6 separate regions of the Homo sapiens genome follow, and all the other regions are linked to region 1. Evidence: fine-mapped expression QTL. A gene starts in region 1. Each other region holds a variant in brackets. All regions are shown on one strand. Distances are between the middles of the regions. Region 1 holds the start of BTBD2 (BTB domain containing 2). Region 2 holds the start of LOC124904610 (a long non-coding RNA gene). Region 3 overlaps CSNK1G2 (casein kinase 1 gamma 2). Region 4 overlaps SCAMP4 (secretory carrier membrane protein 4). Region 5 overlaps CSNK1G2 (casein kinase 1 gamma 2). Region 6 overlaps CSNK1G2 (casein kinase 1 gamma 2).

What was found. PIP is the estimated chance that this variant, and not a neighbour inherited with it, causes the effect. A credible set is the group of variants that fine-mapping cannot tell apart.
Region 2: its variant is the best candidate, but not a certain one, in a credible set for the expression of BTBD2 in sun-exposed skin (GTEx, PIP 0.67).
Region 3: its variant is the best candidate, but not a certain one, in a credible set for the expression of BTBD2 in thyroid (GTEx, PIP 0.66).
Region 4: its variant is the best candidate, but not a certain one, in a credible set for the expression of BTBD2 in whole blood (TOPMed, PIP 0.86).
Region 5: its variant is the best candidate, but not a certain one, in a credible set for the expression of BTBD2 in stomach (GTEx, PIP 0.53).
Region 6: its variant is the best candidate, but not a certain one, in a credible set for the expression of BTBD2 in prefrontal cortex (CommonMind, PIP 0.74).

What each region holds. Positions count from the first base shown.
Region 1 is chr19:2,013,599-2,018,198 of GRCh38, reverse strand. It overlaps BTBD2 (BTB domain containing 2), which reads left to right and starts at 2,485. Exons shown (of 9, transcript NM_017797.4): 1 at 2,485-2,902. The coding sequence starts at 2,496. It overlaps LOC107985278 (a long non-coding RNA gene), which reads left to right. Exons shown (of 4, transcript XR_001753845.2): 3 at 899-1,016; 4 at 1,105-1,854. RefSeq lists silencers at 2,679-2,828, 2,839-2,888.
Region 2 is chr19:1,985,827-1,990,426 of GRCh38, reverse strand. BTBD2 (BTB domain containing 2) reads left to right here. Exons shown (of 9, transcript NM_017797.4): 5 at 226-423; 6 at 2,735-2,927; 7 at 3,174-3,261; 8 at 3,451-3,597; 9 at 3,778-4,600. The coding sequence ends at 3,939. It overlaps LOC124904610 (a long non-coding RNA gene), which reads right to left and starts at 2,735. Exons shown (of 2, transcript XR_007067086.1): 1 at 1,933-2,735; 2 at 57-1,469. The variant G/A (reference allele first, on the strand shown) is at 2,279.
Region 3 is chr19:1,968,044-1,972,643 of GRCh38, reverse strand. CSNK1G2 (casein kinase 1 gamma 2) reads right to left here. Exons shown (of 12, transcript NM_001319.7): 2 at 2,685-3,136. The coding sequence starts at 2,871. Among named protein-coding and RNA genes, the nearest start is that of CSNK1G2-AS1, 16 kb to the right of the region's middle. The variant G/A (reference allele first, on the strand shown) is at 2,622.
Region 4 is chr19:1,922,097-1,926,696 of GRCh38, reverse strand. It overlaps SCAMP4 (secretory carrier membrane protein 4), which reads right to left. Exons shown (of 7, transcript NM_079834.4): 6 at 3,510-3,627; 7 at 684-2,589. The coding sequence ends at 2,413. Among named protein-coding and RNA genes, the nearest start is that of CSNK1G2, 17 kb to the left of the region's middle. The variant C/T (reference allele first, on the strand shown) is at 1,953.
Region 5 is chr19:1,956,598-1,961,197 of GRCh38, reverse strand. The region is part of intron 1 of CSNK1G2 (casein kinase 1 gamma 2); the gene reads right to left. Among named protein-coding and RNA genes, the nearest start is that of CSNK1G2-AS1, 4.3 kb to the right of the region's middle. The variant C/T (reference allele first, on the strand shown) is at 2,263.
Region 6 is chr19:1,980,267-1,984,866 of GRCh38, reverse strand. CSNK1G2 (casein kinase 1 gamma 2) reads right to left here. Exons shown (of 12, transcript NM_001319.7): 12 at 3,529-4,600. Among named protein-coding and RNA genes, the nearest start is that of CSNK1G2-AS1, 28 kb to the right of the region's middle. The variant C/T (reference allele first, on the strand shown) is at 2,185.

The sequences.
Region 1 (4,600 bases):
ATGTCCTCTTTAGGATTTGGCTGGAAAGATGTCACTTTGCAAATGTATGAGATGAGAGATAAGAAAGTTGACATTTAGAGGCCGGCTGTGATGGCTCCCGCCTGTAATCCCAGCACTTGGGGAGGCCAAGGCAGGCGGATCACCTGAGGTCGGGAGTTCGAGACCAGCCTGACCAACATGGAGAAACCCCGTCTCTACTAAAAATACAAAATTAGCCGGGCGTGGTGGTGCATGTAATCCCAGCTACTCAGGAGGCTGAGGCAGGAGAATCGCTTGAATCCGGGAGGCGGAGGTTGTGGTGAGCTGAGATCGTGCCACTGCACTCCAGCCTGGGCGACAGAGCAAGACTGTCTCAAAAAAAAAAAAAAAAAAAAAAAAAAATATATATATATATATATATATGTATATACATACACACACACACATATAAAATTAGCCAGGCATGGTGGCAGGCGCCTGTAGTTCCAGCTACTCGGGAGGCTGAGGCAGGAGAATGGCGTGAATCTGGGAGGCGGAGCTTACAGTGAGCCAAGATCGCGCCACTGCACTCCAGCCTGGGCGACAGAACGAGACTGTCTCAAAAACAAAACAAACAAACAAAAAAAAATTAGCCTTAGCCAGGCGTGGTGGCGGGTACCTGTAACCCCAGCTACTCAGGAGGCTGAGGCGGGAGAATTGCTTGAACCAGGAGGCTGAGATTGCAGTGAGCCAAGATCGCCATCACTGCACCCCAGCCTGGGCAATAGAGGGAGACTCTAAAAAGAAAAAAGAAAAAAGAAAAAAAAATTGTAACTACCTCAACCACCCACTCTGGAGAACTGAAAATAGCATTATCACTTGGGTTTTTTTAATACCCTATTTTCTTTTTCTTCTTTGTTTTTTTTTTTTTTCGAGACAGGATCTTGCTCTGTTGCCCAGGCTGGAGGGCAGTGGTGGAGTCATAGCTCATCAAAAGCTCAACCTTCCAGGCTCAAGTGATGCTTCCGTCTCAGCCTTCTGAGTAGCTGGGACAACAGGTGCGTACCACCACGCCTAGTTTTTTTTTTGTTTTGTTTTGTTTGTTTGTTTGTTTGTTTGAGACGGAGTTTTGTTCTTGTTGTTCAGGCTGGAGTGCAATGGCGCGGTCTCGGCTCACTGCAACCTCCGCCTCCCAGGTTCAAGTGATTCTCCTGCCTCAGCCTCCCGAGTAGCTGGGATTACAGGCACCCGCCACCAAGCCTGGCTAATTTTCGTATTTTTAGTAGAGATGGGGTTTCACCATGATGGGGTTTCACCAGGATGGTCTCGATCTCCCGACCTGGTGATCCGCCCGCCTCGGCCTCCCAAAGTGCTGGGATTACAGACGTGAGCCACCGCGCCTGGCTAATTTTTGTATTTTTTGTAGAGACAGGGTTTTGCCATGTTGCCCAGGCTGGTCTCCAACTCTTGACCTTAGGTGATGCACCCCCCGCCTTGGCCTCCTGAAGTGCTGGGATTACAGGCGTGAGCCACTGCGCCCGACCTGGTTCCTCAATCTTTGTGGCATTTGTCTACCTTGACATTATGTATGTAGTAAGCGTTTTGGGGGAGTCCCAGCTCCGTCCACACTGACCACCCCCCACACCTGGCCTGGAGAGGGTGCTGGGCGTCTGCTGAGTGTCAGTGCACGTGGCCTGCATCCTGCTCGCTCATCCGCAGCTTCCCGGCCTCAGGCTATGTCTCTGTACAGCGGAGCCTGCGCCACGGAGCAGGCCCGCCACCTGGGTCCGGGGTCTGGGGTCTGGAGTTTGCGCTTGGTCTTTGGGTTGGGGGTTCCGGGTCTGAGGTATGGGATCTGGAATCCGGAGTCTGAAGTCTGGGGTTCAGAGTCTGGGATCTAGGATTCAAGGTCTGAGGCCTGGGATCCCGGACTGAGGTCTGTGCTCCAGGGTTTAGGATTCCCGGTCTGGAGTCTGGGGCCTGGTGCCTGGACCCCAAATTCTGGACCTCGGTCTGGAGTCTGGGCTTCAGGTCAGGATGCTTAGGGAGTGGAGCAAGAGGTCTTCCACCAGCTCCTCCCCTCTACAGGCCCCTCCTACTCTTCCCTCTCCTCCCCGTCCCCTCCCCTGCAACAGCCTCCCCCATTCACCTCCCTTCTCCCCTCCCTCCTCCCCTCCCACCTCCCCTCCTTTCCCCTCCCTCTCCTCCCCTCCCTCCTTCCCCCTCCTTTCCCCTCCCTCTCCTCCCCTCCCTCCTTCCCCCTCCTTTCCCCTCCCTCTCCTCCCCTCCCTCCTTCCCCCTCCTTTCCCCTCCCTCTCCTCCCCTCCCTCCTTCCCCCTCCTTTCCCCTCCCTCTCCTCCCCTCCCTCCTTCCCGCTTCCCCTCCCCTCCCTCCTCCCCTCCTTTCCCCTCCCTCCTCTTTTCCCCTCCCCTCCCTCCTCCCCCTCCTCCCCCTACTCTCCTCCTTTCCCCTCCCTCCTTCCCTCCTCCCCTCCCTCCTTCCCTCCTCCCCTCCCCCGCCCACGCCGCAGCCACAAAATGGCGGCGGGTGGGAGCGGCGGGCGTGCGTCGTGCCCGCCGGGGGTCGGGGTCGGCCCGGGCACGGGGGGCAGTCCCGGGCCCAGCGCCAACGCCGCCGCCACCCCGGCCCCCGGCAACGCGGCCGCCGCCGCCGCCGCCGCCGCCGCCGCCGCCGCCGCCCCTGGGCCGACGCCGCCCGCCCCGCCGGGCCCCGGGACAGACGCGCAGGCCGCGGGCGCGGAGCGGGCGGAGGAGGCGGCGGGCCCGGGGGCGGCGGCGCTGCAGCGCGAGGCCGCGTACAACTGGCAGGCCAGCAAGCCCACCGTGCAGGAGCGCTTCGCCTTCCTCTTCAACAACGAGGTGCTGTGCGACGTGCACTTCCTGGTGGGCAAGGGGCTCAGCTCGCAGCGCATCCCCGCGCACAGGTGGGCGCCCCGACCCCGCCAGCCCTGGCCCCGACCCACCCAGCCTGCTGCCCGGGCCCTGCACCTGAGGCCCTGCACCCCTCTGTCCCCGAGACCCCCGCACCCCTCCATCCCCGAGCCCTGCACCCCTCTGTCCCCGGGACCCCTGCACCCCTGCATCCTCAGGCTCCGAACCCAACTCGGCCTGCACCCCGGGGCCTGCACCTGAGGCCCTGCACCCCTCTGTCCCTGGGACCCCTGCACCCCTCCGGTCCTGAAACCGACCCGGCCTGCACCCCGGGGCCTGCACCCTTCCATCCCTAGACTCCACCCAGTTCCCTGGGCTCTGCACCCCTCTGTCCCTGCCTCTGCACCTCTCTGTCCCCAGACCCCACCAGGCCTGCACTCTGGGCCTCTGCACCCCTCCATCCCCAGGCCCCCCTGGATCCTCCACCTCTGGCTTGCGCCCCCAGCCTGTTCCCCGGGATCCCAGGCCCTGTACCCCTGGGACCCCTGCTCTCCTCCGTCCCTGGACCCACCCAGCCTGCACTCCGGTACCCTCCGTTCCTGGGACCCTCCAACTCGGCCTGCACTTGGAGCCCCTGGGCCCCTCCATCCTCAAACCCCACCCAGCCCGCACCCCAGAACCCTGAATACCCCATCCTCAGGGCCCTCCACCCCCCGCCTGCACCCTAGGACCCTCCATTCTTCCATCCCCAGGACGCTCCATCCCTGGACCTCACCCCTCCCTGCACCCCAGGTCCCCAGACACCTCTGCCCCCAGATCCCTGGGCCCCTCCACCTCCGGCTGGAACCCCTGCCTACACCCCAGGCCCCTCCATCCCTGGACCCCACCTGGCCTGCATCCCTGGGTCCCCTCCATGCCCTGGCCCTGCACCCCCACCCACCACCCCTGGGACTCCTGTGACCCTCCAACCCTGGGACGTGTACCCCTATCTGCTCCTCCATTCCCAGGACCCCAACCCACTGTTTCTAGGACCCATGACCCCACATGCCACACCCCTCCATCCCTATACCCGGGGATCCTCAGGACCCCTCCATCCCCAGGCCCTGCACCCTTGCCTGCCGCCCCTCTCCCCCTGGGACCCCTACTGGTGACCCCTCCGTCCCTGTACCCAGGGACTCTCCAGGACCCCTCCTTCCCCAGGTCCTTCACCCCTGCCCACTGCCCTTCCACTCTCTACTCCCGGGGCCCCCTGGGACCCCACTACACTCAAGTGTGTCACCCCTGCATCCCAGGATGGAGAGACTTCTCCGCTCTCACCTGAGACCCCCCGTCCCCAGTCCTCACCACCTCAGTCCGTAACCCCCAACCTATGACTCCTGAACTCCAGGACCCCTCCCTTCAGGGGTCGTGCTATTTCCTCCACCCCCACCCATGACCACAAGACCCCTCCCTCTTCCCCCACCATCCAGGGACCCTGCCACTCCCACCCGCACCCCTGTGCGCCAAGACCCCTAGGCCTTGCTCCCTGCGTCCTCCCTGCTGCCTCCAGACCCAGTGACCCCCACCGGAGACCCCCAGGCTCAGCACATGATCTGGATCAGAGACCTTCAAACCATGCTGCTCCCCTCCAGGGATACCCCCTGCCCGCCCTGCAGTCCAGATCATAGACTACCATCCACAGCCCCTCCAGCCCCGGACCCCCACCTCAGCCAGAGACCCCTGGGCCCTGCCACCTCCCACTTCAGTGACCA
Region 2 (4,600 bases), 28 kb after region 1:
GTCTGTCCTTGTGGCTTAAAAACAACCACAGCCGAGGAAAATGAAGGGGCGTGGTCTTGTGTTGATAAAGCTTTATTTATAAACACACTCACAGGGCCAGATTTGGGCCACGGGCCATAGTTGCCAGCCCGGCTTTAACTGCTGGTCCTCACGTTAGTCTCACTGCCTCCTGCAGGGTGGGCATGTGGGTGTCGTGTTCACGCAGCCCCTTCCTCCACCCCACAGACACGCTGGTGGCTGTCCTGGAGCGCGACACACTGGGCATCCGTGAGGTGCGGCTGTTCAATGCCGTTGTCCGCTGGTCCGAGGCCGAGTGTCAGCGGCAGCAGCTGCAGGTGACGCCAGAGAACAGGCGGAAGGTTCTGGGCAAGGCCCTGGGCCTCATTCGCTTCCCGCTCATGACCATCGAGGAGTTCGCTGCAGGTAACAGAGCTCGGGCTCAGGGGCTGGTTTGGGAGGGGAGTGGCACACAGGTGGGCATCTGGGTACCGAGGATAGTGCCCCCGAGTTCACTGCGGAAAGCCTGGCAGATGCCTGGCATATACAGATAGGAAGAAACCTGGCTTGTGAGGACGCGTCCACAGGGCCATCTGTTAGCCCCGGCCCGGCTCTGTCCCCACCGTGCACACTGCCAGACCCCGCCTCTCGTGTCTGTCCAGCTGTTTTGGTGGCATCTTCCCAGGAGGGAAGGGAGTCCCCGTCTCGCGCCCTTGTGCTACCTGCTGGTGCAGGTACCAGTGTCTGTGACGAGCTCAGGAGGGCTCTGACATGGCCGGGGTGGCTGTCATGCGCCCGAGTGGGCCTTGGGGTCCCCTGCTGCAGGGCCTGGGTTCCAGGGTGACGTGAAGGGGCAGCGCTAACGATGCCTCCTGCCCTCGTGGCTGCTCACTGCCTGACGCCATCCAGCTCTGGAGCAAAACAGGCCTGGAACTTTCCAGAAGGGGCTGGGACAGAGCCCTGGGGCTGGTGCACACTCGCCGTCTGGCCTTCCCCAGGTCCACGCGGCCCCCGCTCTTGCTTAGCTGAAGGTCGCCAGATTTAGCAAGAGGGTCTCTGTCGCCCAGGCTGAGTGCGGTGGTACAATCACAGCTCACTGCAGCCTCGACCTCCTGGGCTCAAGTGATCCTCCTGCTTCAGACTCCGGAGTAGCTGGGATCACAGGTGCCACCACCACACAAGGCTTATATTTGTATTTTTTTGTGGGGACAGGGTCTTGCTATGTCACCTGGGCTGGTCATGAACTGGGCTCCAGCCATCCTCCCATCTCGGCCTCACAAAGTGCTGGGATTATGGACATGGGCCACCGAGCCTGGCTAGATACATACTTCTTAAAAATACAACTGTTGATCAGCTGGGTGTGGTGGCTCATGCCTGTAATCCCAGCTACCCGGGAGGCTGAGGCAGGAGAATCACTTGAACCCAGGAGGTGGAGGTTGTGATGAGCCGAGATCGCGCCACTGCACTCCAGCCTGGGCAACAAGAGTGAAACTCCATTTAAAATAAAAAAATATATACAATTGTTGGCCAGGCTGGGTCACTCACTCCTGTAATCCCAGCACTTTGGGAGGCCCAAGATGGGGGGAATCACTTGAGGTCAGGAGTTTGAGACCAGCCTGACCAACAGGGTGAAACCCCGTCTCTACTAAAAATACAAGATTAGCTGGGCATGGTGGCGCATGCCTGTAAACCCAGCTATGCTGGAGGCTGAGGCAGGAGAATTGCTTGAACCCTGGAGACGGATGTTGCGGTGAGCCGAGATTACGCCACTGCACTCTAGCCTGGGGGACAAGAGCGAAACTCCGTCCTGCACTCTAGCCTGGGGGACAAGAGCGAAACTCCGTCTCAAAAAAAAAAAAAATTGTTAACATTGTTTATTGAGTTTTGATACTCAGTCTTCCTGATTCACTTAACCCATAATGGTCTGTTTCTCACCAGTTATTAAACTGTGTCTGCACTGGGCTGGCTTGCAGCTGAGCGATGCGGAGTTGAGCCCACCTTGGTTGATGAGTGATTAGGTCTCAGGCAGGCAGGGCTGCTCTCATTAGAGCAGAGGGTGCTGTGTCCTGGCACTCCTGGGGGTGGATGGTGGACCCCCAATTCTGCCCCTCCTGGCCTCCCCTCCCTACCCAGAGCCCCTTCACATCCCATGCACAGTCCCTCTGCCTGTGACATCTCTGCACCGGGATTAAGAGCCTGGCTCTTGGAGTCTGCCTGGGGTCCGCTAGCCATCACCCCTGGGGGTGTAAGCGCTTGAGAAGGTGTCTGCCTAGGGCCCACC[G/A]TGGAGAGGAACCCCCAGACTGCTTCTAGAAGCCAGGGCTGCAGCCTGGGGGGTACAGGCCTAGCAGGGAGCCACAGTGACCCCTCCCAGCCAATGGCCCTGAGAGAACAGGCAGTGGAGCCCCCCGCCCCCACCCACAGTGAAGTGACGGGTGGTCCCTACAGTGGGGCCAGACCCTGAGACATCACCCCTGAGTGAGTGCATCTGTCAGACCCTGAGGCATCGCCCCTGAGTGAGCGTATCTGTCGGCCTCTGGTCTGTGCCCTGGGACCTCTCCCTAAAAGCCCAGGCAGCAGGGGCCATGGCTGGTGGCTAGTCCCCCGGGGAGGGGCTGCCCAGGTCCCTGCACCTTGAAAGTCCGACGCAGACATCTTAGGGGGAAGGAGCGTGTCCTCCCAGGCACTCGGGATCCTGGGGTGCAGCCCGGCCCTCCCCCACACCCTCCCTGTGCTGCAGGTCCCGCACAGTCGGGCATCCTGGTGGACCGCGAGGTGGTCAGCCTCTTCCTGCACTTCACCGTCAACCCCAAGCCACGAGTGGAGTTCATTGACCGGCCCCGCTGCTGCCTGCGTGGGAAGGAGTGCAGCATCAACCGCTTCCAGCAGGTGGAGAGTCGCTGGGGCTACAGCGGGACCAGTGACCGCATCAGGTGGGGCTTGGGGTGCAGGCGGGGGGGTCCGGACATGGGGGTGGAGGACTCGGGGATGACGGAGATGGGGGGCCGGGCATGGGGGTGGAGAACTCAGGGATGATGAAGACGGCGGGGGGGCCGCCGGGCATGGGGGTGGAGGACTCAGGGACGATGGAGGGGACCGGGCATGGGGGTGGGCTCGCCCCAGCTCACCTTAGGCTATCCCTGGGTATCCACGCTGCTGCCTGTCATCTGCCACGGCAGGTTCTCAGTCAACAAGCGCATCTTCGTGGTGGGATTTGGGCTGTATGGATCCATCCACGGGCCCACCGACTACCAAGTGAACATCCAGGTACCAGCCCCAAGCCTCATCCCCAGGCCCCACTCAGGCCCATGTCCTCTCTCCACCTCCATGGAACCCTGGCTGAACCCCCGGCCCTGGTCCCTGTGCTGCCCCCACCCTGGGCAGGTGGGCTGGGCCTCGAGGGGTCCCCGTTGGCCCTCCCCAGGCCTGAGCCTCCCACTTCCCACCTCCCCGCAGATTATTCACACCGATAGCAACACCGTCTTGGGCCAGAACGACACGGGCTTCAGCTGCGACGGCTCAGCCAGCACCTTCCGCGTCATGTTCAAGGAGCCGGTGGAGGTGCTGCCCAACGTCAACTACACGGCCTGTGCCACGCTCAAGGTGCGCCGCCGGGGACAGGGGTCCCTCCGTGGGAGTCTCTGGCCCATCCTGAAGCCACCGGGGCACAGCACACACTCTCCAGAGGCAGCCACCCTGGCCCAGTCGGGGCCTTGCCCTGTCCACACCTGGGGCATCCCAGCCTGGTGGTCCTTGACCTCACTGTACCCCTATTCCCTACAGGGCCCAGACTCCCACTACGGCACCAAAGGCCTGCGCAAGGTGACACACGAGTCGCCCACCACGGGCGCCAAGACCTGCTTCACCTTTTGCTACGCGGCCGGGAACAACAATGGCACATCCGTGGAGGACGGCCAGATCCCCGAGGTCATCTTCTACACCTAGGCTGCCCGACACCGACACCGCCCTCCCTCCGTGGGGATAGCCGCAGCCCCAGGCCATCATCTGCTGCTGGGGCCCCCCCACCACGCGGTGCCAGGCCCAGTGTCCCCCAGGCCGTCTGTCCACTCCATGCCACCTTTCTCAGCATCAGGACGGGGTTGCCCTGTGTTCACCACGAGTGTGGCTGCTGGATCAGGGCAGCCGGGGAGGTGGCCAGGCCAGTGGCCAGGCCCTGTGGAGACAATCCCTCAGGACTAGGGACAGGGCTGTGCCGGCCTGGGCCAGGGCCCACGGACCCGCAGCTCAGGGCGCCTGCCCACGTCGTCTGCCGGCGGTGCGCCGCGGGCGTCCCTCGCGTCTCTTCACTGCACATTGCAATGCATTTGCGATTCCCATTTCTCTGCTAGGAGCCAGCCTGGGTGGCGCTGCTCCCAGAGCCGTGGGTCCCAGACCTTGCGTTCCTTTTGTTCCTGTCCGTTTATCAGGACACGGGCCCCACCTGTCACGTGCCCGAGGCCACCCAAGCCCAGCCTGCGGGGCGTTCCCACTGCCTGGATGCCGGCTTGAGTTCTGCGCACGCAGGATTCAGTGTGGGGACGGCCCCTGCCGGATAGGCCTAGCCCTGGCCCAGGTGGTGAGCGGTTTGCAGTGTCCGTTCTCATCC
Region 3 (4,600 bases), 46 kb after region 1:
TCTCAAAAACAAAACAAAACAAAGCAAAGCAAAGCTGAGATGGAAAAACGTTTCATGAAATAATGGCTCACATTTTTCCAAAGTTAATTTGAAAAAGTACCAACACAGAGATCCAAGAAGTCAGTGGATCCCAAGCAGGATAAAAACAGAAAGCCTCATCTAAGGAGAGCATAGTCAATATTTTAAATCAAAGATAAAAACCTTAAAAACAGAAAAAACGACACATTCTAGAACATTCTAGACAACGGAACAACATTCAACAACCGGAGTCCACAACAGGCTCAACATCAAAGCCACCAACAGTCCTGAGTGCTGGGGACGTGGAGTGCTCGAGGAGCCCAGTGCTATTCAGTTCTATTTGGGCAGTTAGTTCTATTCAGAAGGGCCCAAATCCAGAAACAGCCAAGCGTCCCTGCGCTGGGAGCAGATGAAGAAGGGCTGGTGTGTCCTCCGATGGACGGCCTCCCGGCACCCCTGAGAAACCACGATGTGCGGCTGCCCGCGAAGCACACAGCGCCCAAAATGCCAGGCTGAAGAGAGCGCAAACCGCAACTCAGTAAAAGCTGGCGTCACCAGGCCGGGCGCAGTGGCTCACGCCTGTAATCCCAGCACTTTGGGAGGCCGAGGTGGGTGGATCACAAGGTCAGGAGATCAAGACCATCCTGGCTAACACAGTGAAACCCCATCTCTACTAAAAATACAAAATATTAGCCGGGTGTGGTGGCGGGCGCCTGTAGTCCCAGCTACTCGGGAGGCTGAGGCAGGAGAATGGCGTGAACCCGGGACGCGGAGCTTGCAGTGAGCCGAGATTGCGCCACTGCACTCCAGCCTGGGTGACCGAGCGAGACTCCGTCTCAAAAAAAAAAAAAAAAAAAAAGCTGGCATCACCCACGTCACTCTCATCTGCCTACAGGGACCTGCACTATTCAGCAGCCTGCAACCGCCGCCCAAGGACAGGACCCACATAGCCATCTGGGTTCCCAAAAGCCATACCCCGCAGGCTGCAGGTCACGGGGCTGTGCCAGGCATGTGTGTGCAGATGAGCCTGTGTGCCTGTGTATGCGTGGTTGTGGCTGTGTGCGCCTGTGTGCGTGTGCTTTAGTGTGCACATGTGCATTTGTGGGCACGTGTGTACATGTCTGCATGTGTCTGCACGTGTGTCTGAGCGTGCACACACACACGGGGTTGGGAGGCCACAGCTCCTGTTGGGAAAAGCTCAGTCTCTTGGCTGAGAAACGGAGCCCGGGCCTCCTGAGCCACAGGCCGTCGGACCGGCAGTGAGGCTTCGTGGCCCAAGCCCAGCCTCTGCGCAGAGGTGGAATCCCAGCAGCCTCCCCAAGGGCTGGGGTGGGATCTGGTTCGGGTGGGGTCTCAAACCCCGGCCTCCTGGGGCCCTGGGTGCAACCAATGGGAACACAGAAACAGCCAACAGTGACCCCAACAGCTGCCCTCGCCTGGGAGAAGCTGCTTGACTCATAGGACACACACTTCTGCCGCATAACTGCCTGCTGAACCCTTCTGCCCACGAGTGGCAACTACCATTCATCCTCATTTAACAGGTGGGTAAAGTGAGGCAGGAGGTGGGAAGCAGGGCCACAAAACATGCCTGGGGTCCAGGCCGCCACAGCCCATGCTCCTGCGCCCCTGGGCGGCCGCTCTTGAAGATGCAGCCACATCATGACCACTGCGTGGGCCTGTTTCCCTCATCTGACAACCTCATCGGGCTGAGTGCCTGCCATGGGTGCCATGGGCACCGCCTGCCATGGGTGCCCACGTGAGGCCGATCCACTGCCGTGGCCTCTCGGACCTGCCCATCCTGCGCTCTTTCCCAGGGACCCTGATTCCCACCACGACAGACACTGACTGGGGGTGCACCTGGGTTCCCCGGACAACCCCAGCAACAGACGCCAAATGCCCTCCCGCAGGAGCTCCGGCAGCACCAGCAATAAATTTAACCACATTTCCGGGGATGATTCAGCTCCCTGGCCCAGCTAATCACAGACTGGGAACGGCCCCAAAGGTGCTCAGAGCTCCCCCAGGCCTGATGGTCATCTTCAGGCACCCCCACCCCAGGGAAGGCACCCCTGGCCAATGAGAGGCTCAGTCCTCGGCCCTGCTCCTCACGCCTGCCCGGGCAATCAGACCCCGACCCGGGAGAGGTTGGTGTGAGCAGAAGGGACGGAGCCAGGTGGGCCAGGTGCGGCCTTTTACATGGTGAAGCTGGGAGTGGCACACAGCAGTATCATCACCACAGAACAGTCACTCCAGCCACCTGACGCCAGCTCCGGGCTGGCCAAGACCTCCCACGAGCTGAGTGCCGGGCAGGCACCTGCCGTTAAAGCCGGGGCTTCGCCCAGCGTGCACATGGGCCATGAAAGTCATTCACAACTTAACATCGGGCTCCTTGCGGCGTGGCCTGGCCTGCTCTGGGCCACCTGCCTCCCAACAGAACTGTTTCCCGAAAAGGTGACAGGGCCAGAAACCCACTCTCCCCACAGAACCTCCTCGAAGGGAAGTGGCACTCGCACCACGACGGACTGATGATTCAACGCACCTGCCAGTGACATGGGGCGGCCCCGCCAGAGGCTCCAGTGACCCCGGGCGGCCCCACCAGAGGCTCC[G/A]GTGACTCGGGGCGGCCCTGCCAGCAGCCTCCCGACCCCACCTACCACCGAGCAGGGCCTCACCTAGGCGGAGCTCCCCGAAGTTGCCGCAGCCGATCTTCTTGCCGACGCGGAAGTTGGGGCCCACCATCAGGACCCCCGAGCTGGTCCCCGAGCTCCGGATGCCGTGGCTGCTCCGGCCCCCGCCGGCCTTGGACATTCTCCGGCCCTCCTCCGTCTCCCCTTTCCCTCCTTTCTTGTCAAAATCCATAAGTTTGTGATACCCTGGCCTCTCCACGGTGACTCTGCTGCCGTGCAAATCCCAAGTCTCTGGAAACCTGAGGTCTTGGCTCCTCTGTGGCTAGAACATCACTGCGGCCGGTGGGCGGGCGTGGGCCCGTGGCTCCCAGCTACTGAGACGCAGGCGTTCGGGCCGGCCAGGCCGCGCTGCTCTTCTCAGTGGCCTCGGGGTCGCTCTCGGGGGCAGGAGACATTCTGCTGACACATCCCACCGCCTCAAAGCTCACGGCTCACAGCTGCAGAGAAACAGAGGCACAGGTGAGCACCGGCAAGGCCCCCGCGGGGCCACTGAGGACACGGGGCGGAGGCCACAGAGGACACAGCCAGGAGACTGCTGGGCTGGAAGGAGCTCTGAAGGCCGGGGCATGATGAGCACCGTCCCTGCCCGGAACCCAGCTGGGAAGCACACATCACATGACATCAGAGGCCAGAGATCTCGGCGTGGCTGCCTGGGGACGAACAGGGTAGGGCTCAGGGGGCTTTCTGTAAAGCGGGATGGGTGGGTGGGTGGGTGGGTGGCACAGGTGGGAGAGTGTACTGCCAGGAGAGCATGACTGCCAATCCCGGGTAGAAGCCCTGAGGATCCTGAAGCCAGGGGAGCAGTCGCACCCCCAGACACAGAGGGGCCACACAACAGTCCCCGTATCCAGGCCCAGGGCCGCTCTGGGAAAGAGGGAGGGAGGCAGATGACAGCAGGCAGGCCCGAGGCAGGGACACAGGAGCCACCGAGCTGCCCCTGCCCATGGCGACTGGTTGATGCTGAGAGCGGGGAGAGTGGGCCGGAGGGCAGGAGGCCCCGGAGAGCCGGGCACTGATGCAGGAGCCCCCAGGGCCTGACCCAGGCTCGGGTTCTTCTCCAGCAGCCACTGGTGGAGCGGGGCAGGCTGGACGCCACTCGAGGCTGTGATGATGCCAGGCTGGGTCGGACCCATCCCCTTCGGTGCAGAGCGGAGCTGAGGAGGGAATGGCGGGGCTTGAGGGACCAGCGGAGCCAACAGCCACCTAAGCAAGGCTGGGCACGGGGCAGGCAGCAAACTTCTACCCCAGGGGAAAAGACAGAAGCCTCTGGTCCTGAGAAGGAACACGCAGTCCCTGCTCCCGGGATGGTGGGACCCCAGCCCACAGCCCCTCGCTGAGTCTGCACCACCTTAAATGCTCCCGAGCCCAGAGCTGAGGGCCCCAGAGCCTGTTGCCACCCACAGAGAAACGCCGTGTCTGGACAGGGGCTCATGGCTGAGGGGACTCTGTGCAGGTCGCTCTCTGGAGCGAGGGGGCCAGCCAGCCCCGGCTGGCATGGAGCCCAGTCTCAGCGCAGGCCCCGACGGGAGGCAGGACGGTCCCCAGCAAGGAGCCTCGGGACAGCCTGGGGAGGAGGGAGGAGGGAGGAGCCCCACCTGCAGAACTGAAGGGTGGTCAGGGGCAGCCTGGGGAGGAGGGAGGAGCCCCCACCTGCAGAACTGAAGGGTGGTCGGGGGCAGCCTGGGGAGGAGGGAGGAGCCCCACCTGCAGAACTGAAGGGTGGTCTGGGGCAGCCTGGGGAGGAGGGAGGAGGGAGGAGCCCCACCTGCAGAACTGAAGGGTGGTCAGGGACAGCCTGGGGAGGAGCCCCACCTGCAGAACTGAAGGGTGGTCGGGGGCAGCCTGGGGAGGAGGGAGGAGGGAGGAGCCCCACCTGCAGAACTGAAGGGTGGTGGGGGCAG
Region 4 (4,600 bases), 92 kb after region 1:
ACTCTGTCACCCAGGCTGGAGTGCAATGGTGCAATCTTGGCTTAGTGCAACCTCTGCCTCCCAGGTTCAAGCGATTCTCCTGCCTCAGCCTCCCGAGTAGCTGGGATTACAGGCGTGTGCCACCACGCCCAGCTAATTTTTTGTGTTTTCAGTAGAGACAGAGTTTCACTATGTTGGCCAGACTGGTCTTGAACCCCTGACCTCAGATGATCCGCCCACCTCGGCCTCCCAACGTGCTGGGATTACAGGCGTGAGCCACTGCGTCTGGCCGATGTTTGCTTTTTACGTAGGGCCAGTGACACTGGCTTTCCATCTGTGCAAGTTTCCTTTTTTTTTGAGCCGGTGGGGAGTGCAGTGGCGCGATCTGGGTTCACGGCAACCTCCGCCTCCCGGGTTCAAGCAATTCTCCTGCCTCAGCCTCCTGAGTAGCTAGAACTACAGGCACCCGCCACCGCGCCCGGCTAATTTTTGTATTTTTAGTAGAGGCCGGGTTTCACCACGTTGGCCAGGATGGCAGGGTCAGCCCTGGGCACACCTGGCTACAGGGCACCCGGGGCCTGGGTGGGAGGAGGCGCTGCAGGGGGGCATCCTGCCAGAGGCCATATGCTGAGGGGTCTCCCAAGGGAGAAGACGGCCTGGGGGAACCACACATGCTCACAGCACAAACGCGGCAGGTCCCTGGCTCTAAGTGCAGAAACATGTATTTATTTCCAGGATATTTTCACATAACAAAACCCCAACGATGCGGCGAGGGGCCACACACGGCGGGGGAGGGGTGGGGGGGGGTTGGGCCTGCCAGGTGAGATTTTGTCTGCATCAGTGCAGGCGAGAGGCTGGGGAAGGGGGTGCCTCTTGGCAGACTGGCCGGGGGCAGGACCTGAAGACCCTGAAGCATGGCCGTGAGACCCATGGGTGCTCCATCCTGGCTGCCGTCCATCGAGACACCATGGCCGCCTCCGGGCACCCAGCGGCATTCCGTACCAGCGAGGGGACTGGCTCACATCCTGGGGAGGGCTCCAGGGCAGCAGGCGTCCTACAGCAACAGCATCCTGGGGGTGAACGGGTGGGGAGGGGTGGCAGCCTGGGGTGTCCAAAGTTGTGGTCAGCGAGTGCAGGAAATGATGAAGGAAAAGTTTCTTTTTGGCCCAACCGTTGTGAATGGTGCTGTGAAAATGTCTTGCCTGGGAGAGGTGTTCCAGGGGGAGTTGGGGGGTGAGGGGACAAGACAATTGTGGCCGCTGCCGGACCCCTCCATAAGGCACAGATTTGACGGGTCCCCTCTCATAAAAGGCCACTCCAGGCTGGGCGCGGTGGCTGACACCTATTATCCCAGCACTTTGGGAGGCCAAGGCGGGTGGATCACTTGAGGTCAGGAGTTCGAGACCAGCCTGGCCAACATGGTGAAACCCCATCTGTACTAAAAATATAAAAATTAGCTGGGCGTGGTGGCAGGCAACTGTAATCCCAGCTATTTGGGAGGCTGAGGCAGGAGAACTGCTTGAACACGGGAGGCAGAGGTTGCAGTGAGCCGAGATCACACCACTGCACTCCAGCCTGGGCGACAGAGTGAAACTCTTGTCTCAAAAGAGAAAAAACAAAACAAAACAAAACACAAAGGCCTCTCCTGCAGGGCTCCGGCTGCTGGGAAACCGGCTCTCTGCCGGTTTGCTGGGTTTGGGGAGCGGCTGTGCTCCCGACCTGGCCTGGGTCCCCGACTCTGAACTCAGGGGCGTGGAAAGACAGCCTGCCAGGGATCCCTGTTTTGGAGGCAGGGAGGGTGGCCCCAGGATACCCTGGACCAGGAACTCCCCAGGTATGGTGCACGTGGGGAGGGGGCGAGGCTGGAGCCGCACAGATCAGGGGATGGCGGGGACAGCGAGGACTCAGCTAGGCACCAAGCCCTCTATCACTGCAGGGGACCGGAAGCTGGCCCCGACGCCTCTTATTAGTTC[C/T]GGCCAAGGGCATCTGCCATGGTGACGGCGGGTGGCCGGTGAGACGGAGCTCCCCATCAGACCCGCTCTGACCTCAGCGCCAGCAGCTCTGGGAGGACGGGAGGGCGGCCGACCTGCTGCCACCTGTCCCCCGGAGTCAGGCCTCGAGACCTGAAGACAAGGCCGTACCAGCCGTGCAGTGGACGGCGGGTGACCACACGTTTCCGGGAGCAAGAGGGCGTCCTGTGGACGGCAGAGGCCAAGGGCTGCTGGGGAGTGCTTGTGAGGAACTCCGCTCTCGGATGAGATGAACACGGGTTCTGTGGCCCTGGCAGGAGGGGGGCGGTCCGTGGCCACCACCGGCTTCCACCATCCCAGCTGGGGGGATGGGGCCCCAGGTACTCCCAGCCCTCGGGACCAGGGGTAGCAGCAGGAATGAAGGGGAGGAGGTGGTGGGCGGTGGGGGCAGGGCAGGCTCCCTCTAAGGCCACTGGCCACTGCCCGGGTAGCTGGGCACAGTGGGGTACTCGGGCAGGCTGTTGCCTGAGAAGTTGTTGTACTGGGCCTCCCTCGACGGTGGGTTCCGCCAAGTGCCCGTGTTCCACTCCGTCTGTGCCTTCTGGAAGCTTCCGCCAGCCCCTCGGTAGATCCTGTGCACCTGCAAGGACAGAGGACAGGGAGGCAGAAGACAGAAAATGAGCATGGCGGCCGGGCACGGGGACTCACGCCTGTCATCCCAGCACTTCGGGAGGCCGAGGCAGACAGACTGTCTGAGCTCTGGAGTTCGAGACCAGTCCAAACAACATGGTGAAACCCTGTCTCTACTACAATATAAAAAATAGGCCGGGCACGGTGGCTCACGCCTGTCATCCCAGCACTTCGGGAGGCCGAGGCGGGAGGATCACGAGGTCAGGAGATTGAGACCATCCTGGCTAACACGGTGAAAACCTGTCTCTACCAAAAATACAAAAACAAAATAATTAGCCAGGTGCGGTAGCGGGCGCCTGTAGTCCCAGCTACTCGGGAGGCTGAGGCAGGAGAATGGCATGAACCCCAGAGGCGGAGCTTGCAGTGAGCAGAGATCGCACCACTACACTCCAGCCTGGGTGACAGAGCGAGACTCTGTCTAAAAAAAAAAAAAAAAAAAAAAGCATTTTGCTGTAACTGAAAGTTTCTGTTATGAGCCCAGCTCAACACTTCCGCTATCTTCAGATGGAAACTGTGACCGGGAACCTGCAAGGGGCCCCACCCTCACTGACAGGACAGCTCCAGGGCCTCAGCTGTTCCTGCAAACACTGCGGTTTACACACAACCCCTGCTTCCCTCTGGAGTCTGGACTCCCGGCCCAGGGGGCCACAGGACTGGCCCCATAGGAACCCAGGCGCTGGGTCCCTGGGAGTGTCCCTGGTGACAGTGCCTCCTGCTGTCATCCCAGCTCACTGCTGGGGATGAAGTGCGGCCTGCGTGACACCGTGGGGAGAGGGCCCGGCTCCTCGACGTTCACCCACCTGGGACAGTTGGGTGACGAGGTTCATGGAGAAGGGGTAAGGGCTGGACGTCACAAAGCCGAGGACTCACCTTCATGATCGCGATGGCCATCATGGCAGCCGACACGGAGAACATGATGGCTGGAAGCAGCATGACCACGGCAGCGCCCGGGCTGTACTGGAAGAATCCAATTGCCGACAGCCAGCCGCTGCAAGGGACAAGAGAGTGCGTGGGTGCCTGCACACCTGCTGGATGAGGGCCCATGGTCCGGCCCATGGTCCTCCCCATGTAAAGAGCTCTGGCCAATCAACAAGGAGTGGACAGCTCATACAAGGACGACCAAGTGGCCAACAAACATAAAGCGATACTGAGAGGCACCAACTTCAACGCGTGAATACGACCTTATCCCTCCACCATCGCAGCAGTGAGCCGCGTGTGCAGTGGACACAAACTTCGACGCGTGAACACAACCTTATCCCTTCACCATCGCAGCAGTGGGCTGTGCGTGCAGGGAATGGAGACCAGTGCTTCCCCATTAGTTTCCCTCAGTGAGTCCGGCGGGCACCAGCCATGGAAAGACTCAAAGGCCCCACTGAGCCTGCTACTAAGAACCCAGCCTACGGCAACTGTGTCTAATGATGGGAACTGCTGAAACCTACATCCGCATGTCCGGGAGCAATGCGGATGGAAAATCTGCCACCATCACCCGGTGGGCACTGAGGGACCATTAGAAACAATGAGGAGGCCGGGCGCAGAGGCTTACGCCTGTCGTCCCAGCACTTTGGGAGGCCGAGGCGGGCGGATCACTTGAGGCCAGGAACTGGAGACCAGCCTGACCAACAAGGTGAAACCCCGTCTCTACTAAAAATACAAAAATTAGCCAGGCATGAGGGCGCATGCCTGTAATCCCAGCTATCTGGGAGGCTGAAGCGGGAGGCTGCAGTGAGCCGAGATCGTGCCGTTGCTCTCCAGCCTGGGGGACAGAGCAAGATTCTGTCTCAAAATAAAAAAACGAGGGAAAGCACTGCTTAGATCAGCCACCAGTGGGACACTGGGAAGGCCAGCACGCCCTGGGTCCCTCTGTGCAGGACCAGCCTCTGGGCATTGCACCTGCCTTTGAGACCCAGGAGGCAGAAAACAGTCATTTTGAGATTTTTGTCTTAACAGGTGATGAAACCACA
Region 5 (4,600 bases), 57 kb after region 1:
ACAACCGCGACGGCCAGGGCTGGGGTCACACTGGGCTGTCCCTGTCACAGCCCGTCCATCCGTCTTTCCACTGCGGCTGCCAACGGGACGGACAGGGGGACTTCCGCAGAGGACCACCATGCGGGGGCGACGCATCCACAGGAGAGGAAACCGGAGCCCGAAGCCTCTCCTCTGCCCACGCCCCGCCGCACACCGGCCCACACCTGGATGAGCCACCAGCACGGGGACATTCTCCTTCTTCTGGAAACCCTCTCAGCATCCACAGGAAGAGGGGGCTGAAACGTCCGTGCCTGCATTTTGTTTTGTTTTGAGACAGAGTCTCGCTCTGTCGCCCAGGCTGGAGTGTAGTGGTGCGATCTCGGCTCACCGCAGCCTCCGCCTCCCGGGTTCAAGTGATTGTCCTACCTCGGCCTCCCAGGTAGCTGTGATTAGAGGCATGTGCCACCATGCCCGGTTAATTTTTGATATTTCTGGTAGAGACAAGGTTTTGCCACGTTGGCCAGGCTGGTCTCAAACTCCCGACTTCAAGTGATCCACCCACCTTAGCCTCCCAAAGTGCTGGGATTATAGGTGTCAACCACCACGCCCTGACTACTATTAGATTTTCCAGCCCACAAGAAAGCAAAACCACATGCGTGTACACAGACACACACACGGAGACCCCAGGCGCAGGCACACGGGGGACACGGCAGCGTGTCAGAGCCGGGTGTGAGATCCAGCACGGCAAACATCCCGAGGGGACACTGCCCAGAGGCCCCGCCTGAGGCCAGCCTGCTCGCGCCACACTGCCTGCCTTTCTCGACGAGGGCTGGAGGCTGCCCGAGAGGCAGCATCCTGAAGACACAGGCCTCAGCTCTCCCCTGCCAGAAAGCGGCAGGACGTGTGGGCCATCTCAGGGGACTGCGTGCAGAAGCCGGGTAGGGAGGGGGAAGGGGCAGGCGCCATCCGGGGGACCTTCCCTGTGGACTGAGGGCGAGAAGGCCCCAGGTCCCGGATGTACCTATCTCCTAAGCAGGACGCCTTTTCTTCCTACACGCCCCTGTGCTGACGCAGACATTCGGCTGTGGTAGGGTCAGGACTGGCACCAGGGAGGGCAGGGAAGCTCCGGACCCTACATGGGGCCCTGGACGTGGGTGGGGGTTTCTGCCTGCCTGGCTTCCCCCAGGTTATGCCCTTTACAACAGCAGGGAACAAACTCTCACTCCCCAGTTCCGAGAGTCCTGCAGGAGGACCGTGAACCCAAACGGGGTTGTGGGAGCCACAATGTGTAGCCAGGGATGTGGGGACCCAGGGTGGCACTAAAGGTGGGGCGGGTGCTGGGGGACCCACGGTGGCACTAAAGGTGGCACAGGTGCTGGGGGACTCAGGGTGGTACTAAAGGTGGGGCGGGTGCTGGGGGACCCAGGGTGGCACTAAAGGTGGGACGGGTGCTGGGGGACCCACGGTGGCACTAAAGGTGGCACAGGTGCTGGAGGACTCAGGGTGGCACTAAAGGTGGGACGGGTGCTGGGGGACCCACGGTGGCACTAAAGGTGGGGCGGGTGCTGGGGGACCCACGGTGGCACTAAAGGTGGCACGGGTGCTGGGGGACTCAGGGTGGCACTAAAGGTGGGACGGGTGCTGGGGGACCCACGGTGGCACTAAAGGTGGCACAGGTGCTGGGGGACTCAGGGTGGTACTAAAGGTGGGGCGGGTGCTGGGGGCCGAGCATTAAAGGTGGGGCGGGTGCTGGGGGCTCAGCCGCAGCCTGTAGGGTCTGTGCTACCCTGCGCAGGCAGGTGTCCGGGCAGGTAAGACACCCCGATGCCACGTCAGGAAAAAGACATCACACCCACCCTCTCTGTGAGCCCCAGAGCTCCAGCCCTTTCCCAGACAAGGGAGTGGGGACACTCACAGGCCACTGAGAGGGAGCTGCCAAAACCCTCGTTGAGGACAAGAGACTGGAGGCCACCAACCAAACCTGAAAAGCAAACGTCACCGACTTCACGAGGAAAACAAATCCATCCCTTCTCGCCATGAGGATGAAAATATCCTCTATTAGATGGCACAGACAGAGACACAGCCTCATGATGAGCTAAAGGCACTGAGCTGCATGAGTTACACAGCTAGCGGGTACAGCCCGAGTGTCACACCTCAGTTATTAATACAAAAACCAACTCGCACCCTGGGAGCAGATGGAGATGCAGACTGGGAAGCCACATGGGGAATTTGGGGAAGGGACGCTCAGGACCCAGAGCCAAAGCTCATACCCACACTCAATAC[C/T]GGCTGCTGTGGCCCTGGACGGGGGTGGGGGGGACGGGGGGAGGGGGGACAGTGCCTGGACGGGGGATGGGGGACGGGGGGAGAGTGCCTGGACGGGGTAACGGAGGACAGTGCCTGGGAGAGCTGGGCTGCTGCGGCCCTGGATGGGGGGACAGGGGGACGGGGGACAGTGCCTGGGAGAGCTGAGCTGCTGCGGCCCTGGATGGGGGGACGAGGGGAGGGGGGACAGTGCCTGAGAGAGCTGAGCTGCTGCAGCCCTGGATGGGGGGACGAGGGGACGGGGGACAGTGCCTAGGAGAGCTGAGCTGCTGCGGCCCTGGACGGGGGGACGGGGGGACAGGGGGACGGGGGACAGTACCTGGGAGAGCTGAGCTGCTGCAGCCCTGGACGGGGGGACGGAGGGACAGGGGACAGTGCCTGGGAGAGCTGAGCTGCTGCGGCCCTGGACGGGGGGATGGGGAGATGGGGGGGACAGGGGAGATGGGGGGACAGGGGACAGTGCCTGGGAGAGCTGAGGCCCTCTAGACACCTAGCAGGAGCCGGGCAGCTCTCCTGCCCTGGTGCACCAACCCCACGGCCCCCACTGCTGAGCCCTGCAAGACGGCCCTGCCGGGCTCCTGTTCCCCTAACATACACACTCGCTGCCCAAAAAGGACGAAGCGAGGCCCAGCGGCCTCTGGGAACCACCGAGAAGGAAGCCGTGCTCTGGACAGACATCAGGGGCACAGGCTTTGGTGGGGGCAGTGGGAGTCCCAATCGCCCCTCAATTCCAGGCAGAGCAGGCAGGTGCCCCATGAGGCTGCGCTGTGCTTCCAACGCCTCCAGACCTGCTCGGGAGGGGCCCCTTACTCAGCCACCGATGTCCCTCAGGTGTCCCATTAGGATGTGGGCAGTGCCGTCGTCAGGACGCGTCCCAACACCCGGCTTCCGGACAAGACAAGCGCACACCTCCAACCCCTCCCTGCACACGGGGGAAGCACGTGGTGACATGAGGCTGGCTCTGCCGTGTGCCCCGCAGCTCCAGGGGGCCCTAAGCAGTGGCCGTGCCACACACACAGTGCCCGCCGAGCGCCCACCCCACATAAACGGCGCCCGCCTAGCTCCCACCCCACAAACACGGCGCCCGCCGAGCACATACCCCCCACACACGGCACCCACCGAGCACACACCCCAGTGTTTCCAGGGGAGATCTGGCAGCTGCTCAAATGCCGCCAGACGCCCTCAGAGGCCCCTCTGTGCCCACGTCTGCAGTCACCCGGGGTCCTGCGCACCCTCCAGTCTCTGCCTGTGTGGTGAGCTGTGAAAGTGGCCTAGCCTGTGGAGCGCGCCCCGGGCGAGGGGACATGGGGGACCTGCAGGGGCAAAGGCATCTGCTCGGCTCCCTCAGTGAGGACAAACATGAAGTGGAGAGAGAGGTGCCTGCGCTCACTGTCCCTCCTAACAGCAAACCCAAGGTCTCCCACAGGCCCGGCCACCCAAGCCGCTCGGGGCAGCCCCCTTCTCTCCCAGGCTGCTCTCTGCTCAGCACTTGGTTTGCACGAGCGCCTGGTGCATCCCGGGACATCTCTCCCCCGGCTCCACTTTCGTCTGTGGTGCCCACGTGACCTCCCGGGCACACACTGCTTCTCATCCTTGCGGGCCTCCAGGCTGGGCAAGGCACCCTCCTGGGCACAGGGCCACTGGCCTGCTCTCCGTGTAGGCTATCCCTCCTGACACGGTGGCCCTCGGGCCTGTGGGGCTGCCTGGAGGGAGGTGGGGCCTGCGTCCAGGTTGCTTTTCTTTCTAGCCGCCCCTGCCTTGCCCTCTCCACAGCCGGGGACCCCAGAGGCCCAATCCCGCCCACCAATCTCCGGGTGGCACCGTTTAAGCCACGCAGCATCAGGGCACGACCGTCGAAGGGGGGCGCCACCACCAGCCTTCCCTCTGCAGAATCCCCTCCTCCTCCCTCCTTCTCTCTTCCAGGTGAGCCATTGGCTTGGTCAGTTCCTTCTGCTGAGAAACCCTGAGTGATGTGTGATTAACTGAATTAACCCATCAACCGCCGCCTGGCCAGGTTCATCGAGGCTGAGCCCTAAATTCCGGAACGAGCCTCCTGGGGCTCTCTGGGGTGTCCTCCTGGCCCGGAGACAGAAGCTTCTGGACGGCTGTCTCACAGCCCCCACGGATGTGGGTATGACCCACGGCCCCGTGTCCCGATGCTGGAGTCTGTAACCGCCACCTCCTTAAACACTCTCCCATCCCCAACACTCAGTCTACCCAGATGGGACTGGACACACCCCACCCAGCCCCTCTGTGGAGGGTCAACACCAACCACTGAAAGGGCCAATGCCGCAGGGTA
Region 6 (4,600 bases), 33 kb after region 1:
TATGGTGGCAGGCACCTGTAATCCCAGCTACTTGGGAGGCTGAGGCAGGCGAATCGCTTGAACCTGGGAGATGGAGGTTGCAGTGAGCCAAGATGGTGCCATTGCACTCCAGCCTGGGCGAGAAAGCAAGACTCCGTCTAAAAAAAAAAAAGCCAGCCGCAAACAGTTGCCAGGAGGCTGAAGGCTGAGCAGATCTCCACAGTGCGCAGTGCTGGGAGCAGGCAATGGAGATGGAGGCTGGCGGGGTAGGGGGCCTTGTCGAACACCCTGGGGGCCGGGCGTGCTGGCTCACACCTGCAATCCCAGCACTTTGGCAGGCTGAGGCAGAACTGCTAGGGGCCAGGAGTTTGAGACCAGCCTGGGCAACACAGCAAGACCCCATCTCTAAAAAAATACATATTAAAAGGAAACACCTTGGGCTTCTAATGAAGACACCAGAAGGGCCACCCACCAGGAGCTAGGGCAACACTCCTGTGGGGAGGACAGAACGGAAGCCGTCATCACTCCAAAACAAAACCCTGGTAGGGTCTCACTGGGCTGCTGTTACGCTGGACCCTGCCAAAAGAAAACACAGCCCTGTGAAGAAACATCAGCACCAGCTTCTACCATCTGTCATTTACAACGTCCAGCATCCATTTAAAAATGACAGGCTGGGCGTGGTGGCTCATGCCTGCAATCCCAGCACTTTGGGAGGCCGAGGCAGGTGGATCATCTGAGGTCAGGAGTTCGAGACCAGCCTGGCCAACATGGCGAAACCCGTCTCCACTAAAAATACAAAAATTAGCGAGGCGTGGTGGCGTGCATCTGTAATCCCAGCTACTTGGGAGGCTGAGGCAGGAGAATCACTTGAACCTGGGAGGCAGAGGTTGCAGTAAGCCACGATTGTGCCACTGCACTCCAGCCCAGGGAGACAGAGCAAGACTGTCTCAAAAAAAAAAAAAAAAAAAAAAAAAGCCAGGTATGGTGGCTCATGCCTGTAATCCCAGCACTTTGGGAGGCTGAGGCAGGCAGATCACGAGGTCAGGAGATCAAGACCATCCTGGCTAACATGATGAAACCCCGTCTCTACTAAAAAAAACTACAAAAATTAGCCAGGTGTGGTGACAGGTGCCTGTGGTCCCAGCTACTTGGGAGGCTGAGGCAGGAGAATGGCGTGAACCCGGGAGGTGGAGCTTGCCAGTGAGCCGAGATCTCGCCACTGCACTCCAGCCTGGGCAACACAGCAAGACTCTGTCTCAAAAAACAAACAAACAAACATGCAAGGTGAAGCACAGTGAGTAAAAACAATGGAAAAACAGAACAGATCGAGATACGTGACACAGCCAAAGGGTTGAACGTATGTGTAAGTGGAGTCCCAGAAGGAGAGAGAGAGAATGAGACTCAAGCTATATGACAGCCAAGAATTTTCCAAAATGAATGAAAGACGTTGACCCACAATTTTTTTTTTTTTTTTTTTTTTTTTTTTTTTGAGACAGAGTCTCTCTCTGTCACCCAGGCTGGAGTGCAGTGGTGCAATCTCGGCTCACTGCAAGCTCCGCCTCCCGGGTTCACGCCATTCTCCTGCCTCAGCCTCCCGAGGAGCTGGGCCTATAGGTGCCTGCCGCCACGCCCGGCTAATTTTTTGTATTTTTAGTAGAGATGGGGTCTCACCGTGTTGGCCAGGATGGTCTCGATCTCCTGACCTTGTGATCCACCAGCCTCGGCCTCCCAAAGTGCTGGGATTGCAGGCGTGAGCCGCCGCGTTTTAAAAACTTTGTCAGTGGAGCATGCTGGCTCATGCCTGTCATCCCAGCACTTTGGGAGGCCGAGGTGGGTGGATCACTTGAGGTCAGGAGTTCAAGACCAGCCTGGCCAACATGGTGAAACCCCGACTCTACTAAAAATACAAACATTATCCAGGTGTGGTGGCACACGCTTGTAATCCCAGCTACTCGGGAGGCTGAGGCAGGAGAACTGCTTGAACCCGGGAGGTGGAGGCTGCAGTGAGCCGAGACCACGCCAATGCACTCCAGCCTGGGTGACAGCGAGACTCTGTCCCAAACAAACACTTTGTCAACCTGGAATGCCACTACCAGCAAAAACATCCTTATTAAGAAAGGTGAAATAAATATTTTTTTCAGGGAACAAATGCTAATTTGTAATTTGTTACCGACAAAGCTGCACTCGGCCCGGCGTGGTGGCTCA[C/T]GCCTCTCATCCCAGGGTCACTTTCCCACCTCGTCCTCCGCAAGTGCCTGGACAACAGAGCCAGACAGGCAACCCTATCTCTACCTAAAAACAAAACAGAACAAAACAATTAGCTGAGTGTGGTGGTGCACGTCTATGGTCCCAGATACTTGGGAGGCTGAGGTGGGAGGATCGCTTGAGCCCAAGAGGTGGAGGCTCCAGGGAGCTATGACTGTGCAACTGCACGCCAGCCTAGGCCAGGCCCTGTCTCAAAAAAAAAAAAAAAAAAGCTGCACTGTAAGAAATATTGAAGTTCTTCAGGCTGAAAATTATCCCAGAGGTAGTTTTGGGATTCTGTCGCCCGGGCTGGAGTGCGGTGGCGAGATCTGGGCTCACTGCAAGCTCCGCCTCCCGGGTTCACGCTATTCTCCTGCCTCAGCCTCCCCAGTAGCTAGGACTACAGGCGCCCGGCTAATTTTTTGTATTTTTAGTAGAGACAGGGTTTCACCATGTTAGCCAGGATGGTCTCGCACTCCTGACCTCGTGATCCGCCAGCCTCGGCCTCCCAAAGTGCTGGGATTACAGGAGTGAGCTACCCTGCCCGGTCCCAGATGTAATTTCTGATCAGCAGAAAGAAATGAAGAGCATCAGAAAAGGTTAACATGTGGGTAAATATATAAAGCACATGACAAGTAGTCCTTATCCCCAAGCTACTGCCGGGAAAACCATCGATGAGCTCATTCCATTTCCCTCTTGCCATCTGACTCTTACAGGTGCATTATTTCTGCTTTGTCACAACATATTACGGTGGTACTGGTCTTCCACCCTTGCTGCCGGGTATGGGGTGTTGTCTGGGGAGAAGGCACGGGGCGGAGCCGGGGCTAGTGCTGCCAAGGTCTTCACCTGCCTGCAGTTTCCGCTGTTCTTCTGGGAGCTACTGCTGATTCCCTTCACAGTGTCGTGGCCCCCGTGGAGATGTTTTCTGCCCTGCTGCGTGAACAGAGGGAGTCAAGGAGGCCTTCCGCCGTCAGAGCAGCCAGGACCATCCTGCCTGGGCCCCGTCGCTGAGGCTTTCAGGTATATTTGTGTAGTGTCGGGGAACGGGACCCCCGGGGCCAAGTCGCATGTGTGTGACTTCCCCTTTCCATGGTACGTGAACACTCGTCTCCTGCCCTCTCCCCAGACAGAGCCCAGCTCTGCCCTCTGCTTCCATCTTCCTTACCTTCCGCCTCATCAGTCGGTTTCTGTTACCGGAGGCCGCCAGCCGCTCCGGACTCGTCCCGGACAGGCAGGATGGGGATGGAAGCAACGCCCGTTCCAGGTCAAGCTTCGTGGAAAGCCCAGACAAATCCCTCTACACTTGGGTTTGGTTTCATTTTTCTTTTATTTTTTTAAAAAAGCCCCTAAATTCTATGGCTTCAAGGGAGCATCAGAGAAACGTAAATGCCATTTCTGTACACTTGGTAAAGCAAAAACTAGACTCACAGCCACCGCCCTGGGCACGGCCCCAAGCTGCTCCACTCTGCCCGGCAGCCTCCAGGGCACCCCACTGGGGAACCGCCCGCCAGTCCAGGGCCGCCCCCAGGCCCCTGCAATATACCTGCAGGGCTGGGCCGGGGGCTTTAAGGCGTTTTGTCTCCGGCTGCTTGCCGGGTGTCGGAGCAGAGAGGCAGGAAGCTCCGTGCCCACGCGCCCCACGCGGCAGGGCTGAGGGCCGAGCAGGGTGACACCAACCGGTCCTCCCACCTCGGGTTCCAGGCGCCGGGGCGCAGCCTCCGGGAGCAAGTGCGTCGAGAAGCACCCGCCTGGCAGCGCCCACCCGCCCCTTGCCAGGGCCAGGCTGGGAAGAGACTGCAGCAGCCGTGCCCGCGGCGCCCGAGCTTTGGTGCAGCATTTTGGTTGGGGAGCCGGCTTCAGCCACGGCCCCACCCCTGCCTTCCCCTTTGGTTTCGGGGAGGCCTGGGGCACGGCCTCACCCCTGGCAACAATGCCTGTCCCCCTCCCAGGAGGGCCTGGGCAAGACAGCTCCACAGCACCCCTCCAGGCCGGGCCTGCCCTCCCCTCGAGAAAACGGCCTTTGGATCGAGGGAGACAAGCTGGACTTTATGACGCTAACGGGGGCGGCTGGCGGGGCGGGGCCAGGCCGGGGGGCCTCCAGGATCACACTACTCACTTCAGCAAAGAAACGGAGGGGCAGGAGTGGGGTAGGGCGGGCCTCTGTTTTTTTTTTCCTCTTTTCCTTGTTTTAAATAGTTAATGCTCTTGGAGGGGAGGACTAGACACAGGTGTAGAAATTTCGGCCAAAGTCTTACATGAAGGAAGTGACCCCACGTCCCGGGGGTGGGGCCGCCTGAGCCAGGCGCGGCCCCTGCAGTCTGCGTTCTGGCTTCCAGCCAGGGTCTGGCCCTGGGCCGCTGTGGGTGGGCCCCGAGGGCCT